Regions from separate parts of the Homo sapiens genome. Here region 1 is linked to region 2. The links come from fine-mapping of genetic effects on gene expression. Tissue or cell type: lung. Region 2 holds a variant in brackets; the other region holds the start of a gene. All regions are shown on one strand. Distances are from middle to middle.

What was found. PIP is the estimated chance that this variant, and not a neighbour inherited with it, causes the effect.
Region 1: CYTH1 starts here. The variant in region 2 is fine-mapped to the expression of CYTH1 in lung (GTEx, PIP 0.99).

What each region holds. Positions count from the first base shown.
Region 1 is chr17:78,780,774-78,783,381 of GRCh38, forward strand. CYTH1 (cytohesin 1) reads right to left here and starts at 1,500. Exons shown (of 14, transcript NM_004762.6): 1 at 1,429-1,500. The coding sequence starts at 1,450. RefSeq lists silencers at 620-1,019, 1,280-1,559, 1,600-1,759.
Region 2 is chr17:78,562,860-78,565,359 of GRCh38, forward strand. The region is part of intron 11 of DNAH17 (dynein axonemal heavy chain 17); the gene reads right to left. Among named protein-coding and RNA genes, the nearest start is that of DNAH17, 13 kb to the right of the region's middle. The variant G/C (reference allele first, on the strand shown) is at 1,452.

The DNA of each region.
Region 1 (2,608 bases), 220 kb after region 2:
AGGCGGGTGGATCACCTGAGGTCAGAAGTTCAAGACCAGCCTGGCCAACATGGCAAAACCCTGTCTCTACTAAAAATACAACAATTAGACAGGCGTGGTGGCACGCGCCTGTAGTCCCAGCTACTCAGGAGCCTGAGGCAGGAGAATCGCTCAGCTCACCCAGGAGGCCGAGGTTGCAGTGAGCCGAGATGGCGCCACTGCACTACAGCCTGGGCGACAGAGTGAGACTCCGTTTCAAAAATAAAATAAAATAAAATAAAATAATAAAATAAAATAAAATAAAAAATTAGCCGGGCATGGTGGCGTGCGTATGGTTCCAGCCACTCAAGAGGCTGACGTGAGCTACGATCACGCCACTGTGCTCCAGCCTGGGTGACAGAGCGAGATCTCGTCTCTTAAAAAAAAAAAAAAAAGAAAAATGTCCCATTAGTTATTAAACTAGAATTGGGTTCCATTTGGCCACAGAGTTCTGCTTTATTTGTACTTTGCTACCAAACCACAAAAGTTCACCACTTGTTCTATTTGCCATTCTTCCTTTTAATTCCTCATGAACAAACTTAATAAATTAACTACAGCATGTCAAACAACCTTTTGCAACCCTTGCAATTTCAAACTCTTGGAGGGAGGCACCCCTGGCCTGGGCCAGCAGCCTCAACGCGCGGGAGCGAAGGGAGCGGGACAGCGGCTCCGCTTGCCAAGTCCCCAGTCAGGGGAGGAGCGGCGTCCCCACCGCGGTGCCCCTCGGGCTCCACACCCGCGTCTCGGCAGGCGGCGACGCACCGGACCGGCGGCTACCGGGCCCAGACTCCCGCGGGCAGGGCCGTCCCGGAGCCCGCGCCTCGCCGGCGGCGCCGCTCCCCGTTCTCATTTCTGAACAAAGACGTGGACCGGGCACAACTCGCTGACGCCGAGAGCGGCCGGAAACTGCGGGGAACGCGGGCCCGGCCATCCGCGCGTCCGCCCCGAGCCCCGCAGAGGGGCGGCAGGGCCAGCGACCTCCACCCCTCGGCCCCCCGGGACCCGGACTGCGACCCCTGCCCCGGGGACCCCAGCGACCCCAACGACTCTCATCCCTCAGAGCCCCTGAGATCCTGCCCCGCGACCCCAACGACCCTCATTCCTCAGAGCTCGCGGCGACCCCTGGCCCCGCGAGACCGCGAGCCCGGCCTGTGACCCCCGCCCCAGCCACCCACATCCCTCAGCGCCGCCAGCGACCCCGGCCCCGGCGACCCTCATCCCTCAAAACCCCCTGCGACCCCCGCCCCGCGAGGGCCCCGCGCACCGCTCGCCCGCCGGTCGCCCCGGGCTCCGCGTCCCGCACCAGTGTCCCCGGGAAACGCCAGCCGCCGCAAGCGCTGCCGGACGGCCGGGCCCGGAGGGGACTGGGGGACAGCGAGGGGGAAGCGTCCGCCGCCGGGGCGCACTGACCGTAGCTGTCGTCCTCCTCCATGGTGCGGGAGCCGGGCTCCGCGCTCCGGCTCGCCGCTCGCGTCCCGCCGCGCCACCCGCGCCCCCGCTCGCCTCAGCCCGGCTCGGAGCCCCGCCCCCGGCGCCCCGCGCCCCGCGCCCCGCCCGCCCGCGCCTGCGCCTGCGCCCGCCCCCTGCCCCCGGCCCGAGGCCCCGCCCCTCGCCCGAGGCCCCGCCTTCCTCCCGCGCGCGCCGCACCCCGGGTACCCGGCCTCCTCCCGAGGCTCCGGCCTGCGCACGCGCGTCCACCCGAGGCTCCTCCCCTGCCCCCGCCTCTAGACCACGCCCCCGTCCCGAGACACACACACCCCCCCCCCTTCTCCCGGTCCGCCTCCTGGGGCCGAGCAGGTTTCGGTTTCTGAAGGGCGGTGCAAGTCCCCGGGGTGGCGGACTCGACCTGGCCTGCAGCCAGGCTACTGCACGAAAGCCCAAGGTCGTGTCCGGCCACTGAAGGGCAGGGTGGTCCTTGCTGACGCCAACCTGGAAGGTCAGACCCGGCCCCAGCTTGCCAGGGAGGGCCCGGTCCTTGGCGAAAGGCCACAAAAGCTATTTGAAGTCATTTACTCCTGCGTTCAGAACCTTTACATGCTGTATGTCCTAAGTTTACTGCTTCTACTTCTTTTTATTTGTCCTGAGTTTTACCTGGGTCAAGATTGAAAGGAGGGCACTTCAAGTCCCAGCGTTTTGGATTTTATTTATTTATTGGAGACGAGTTTCGCTCTTGTTGCCCAGGCTGGAGTGCAGTGGCCCGATCTCGGCTCACTGAAACCTCCGCCTCCCGGGTTCAAGCGATTGTCCTGCCTCAGCCTCCTGAGTAGCTGTGATTACAGGCATGTGCCACCAGGCCCGACTAATTGTATTTTTAGTAGAGACGGGGTTTCGCCATGTTGGCCAGGCTGGTCTCGAACTCCTGACCTCAAATAATCCGCCTGCCTCGGCCTCCCAAAGTGCTGGGATTACAGGTATGAGCCACCGCGCTCGGCCTTCTCTTTCTTTATGACAGAGGACAATCCCACTGCTGCAGAATGCCAGCACCAGAACCCCCCTTTCCCCCTGCAGTCACTTGTGGCTCCTGCACCCTACACAGAACACTCACTGAGAACTCCACAGAGATCCCTGGACTGCTGGGAATTTTTTGGAC
Region 2 (2,500 bases):
GACCAGAGAGAGGGAAGACAACCTCACACGAAACAGGGTCCCCCAGTGCTGGGTGTGAGTGGGAAATCCAAGAGAGTTTCCCGGGGCTGCCATAACCCACGCCCAATGGGGGCCAGACCAGCTGCGGTGAGCCTGAGTCTCAGACTTTCCCCAGACTTGGGTCTGAGAAAGGTGACCACTGTCCCTAGAAATGGCCACAGGAGGAAAAACCAAAACATGACTGCGAAGAGAGGGAGATTTTTCAGGCCCCCAAGAGTACAGATTTCCCAAATGCAAGATTGCGGCTATTTTTAAGTTAATTGTGTTTTTCAAAATTGTTCAAATCTTCCTTACCCAAATTCTGATTTCTCCTGGGCTTAGAAAAAAATTGTCACCCTTGGACCTATTTGTATTGTGAGTTGTACAAATGGAGCAGCCGTGGACTCTCAGGCAGACATGGAAACGCTGGTGTCCTGCCAGCTACCGCCTTCCTCCACGGTCGCCTGCTGACGTATGAGGTCACCAGTTTCATTTGTTCAAAGCATTGACATGGGGCAGTTGGAAAAAAAAAATGTTCCTCTTAATGGTTTATGACTATCCTGTAATGCGGGTAGATGTTTTACTTGGAAGTCAGAAAAATAGAAAAAAACCCCAAAAACCTGAAGACCCATCATCCAGACAACCGACACACCTGTAATCCCAACACTTTGAGGGGCCGAGGCGGGAGGCATTTTTATTTTTCTCTGTCTTCCCATTTCTCTCTCCTCCTTTTCATGTTTATATAGTTTTTAGTTTAATGACTTTTGGAAAGGAAGCGAATTCTATTTTCCGCCAAAAGGAGATCATGTGGAAAATTGCTCTAGAACGTTCCTGGCTGTGTGCGAGTTGCTGATAATGAGAACTAACTCCGGAACAGGCAGGGGCTGGAAGGGACAACAAGGGAGAGAAACCCCAGGGCCCTATCCTATTTAGAGCACAGGGCTGTCAAACCAGGGGGAAAATGTTCTTAGGTCAAAGAGAAACGTGAACAGATGGCGATGGAAATGGGTTACAAGAGTTATTTCTCCCCCTGCCTCCCTCCCCTCCGCTTTTCTTTGTTTTAAATTGAGCATAAACATACGTGAAAATTTTTAAAAAGAGATCTTTCTTTTAGAGCCCAAAAGCCCCTCTTGACCCTAACAGGTGCCAGGGATGCAGGGGAAAGCCTGGGGCGGGGTGACTGCATTTGTTCCTCGCTAGCTCCATTCTGCAGAGGTCGGGTTGGGTTTCTTCCAGGACCTCCTGCTCCTCACAGGGTAGGGGCCTAGGGCTCCCGAGGGGTCACAAAGTTGAACTCGCCAACCCAGCTCCCTCCCCACTGCCGGATCCCCTAGTGAACCCTGGGGGAGGTTCAGCCCAGACCCGTACGCTGGTCCTTATCTGCTCTTCCCCTTGTGCCAAACTAGATGCAGGTGGCACAATCTCCATGTTGG[G/C]GACAGCAAGACTCTGGGGACTCATCTGGCCCTGGCCGGGTGACCAAGTTACTTAATTTTTCAGATTTTTCCACATCGGAACAGCAGCAGGGAGTCACAGCACCTCCCCGTGGAGCCAGTGTTAGGGGTGCAGGAGCCACAGAAGCCAGCTGCCCGCCCGCCCAGCCCATAAGCCTGTGCCCCATCTTTAATTTTGGAGACCCAAAAGTGAGGTTTCCAAATGAAAGAATTGGCTCCATTGGGACCCTTCTGCGCTGGGGCAGTCCTGACGCTTTTGTGTTATCCTTCAGGGGCTCCACGTGGAAGGCTTATGCTAGAGCGAAACTACCTCCCAACAACATTCAGAACAACCAGCCTCCCTTGTCAAGAGCCAGTTGTGCACTGCAGGAAATACTCAGAAGCGCCTGCCCTGTGCTAGGCTCAGTTCTAAGGGAACTCAAATCCAGTGCCTGACCTCAGGGAGTTTACCTTCTAGTCAGGAAGACAACGAACACACAGACATTAGTATACAAATGAATATGAGGGAAGGCCATTGCTGAGAAGGGACCAGCCTGGGGGCATTTGAGTGGAAGGAAGGAAGTGAGGACCCTGCAACTAGATGCAGCTACCTGGGGAAGAGCCTTCTGAGAAAGGGAATGTTGCCAGATTCTTTGCTTAGCCAAAGATTCTCATCAGGGTCTCCATCCTCCACCATCCCGCAGGGGATGTCTGATTACCCTAACCTGCTTCCAGCTAGAATCTTGAAGTTGGTTTAGCTAGAATCCCCCAACCCCTGATGTCCCCTCTAAGTAATTTTCTATCCATGGACTCCCACCCTGCTCCTTTGCTAGAAATTCCTACTTACCTGCAGTGTATTCAAAGCTGAGCTCCCATCGCTCTCCCTACACCTGTATCTATTGAGATGGTATAAATCGTGAGTAAGGTCTGAATCAAGTCAGCCTCATCTTGCTTTAGCAAGTATAACTGAATAATTTTTTCAACCACAGCAAGGAGGTGCTGTATTAATTTGCATTCATTGATATTTTGCCTGGAACACCAACTCGATCCAA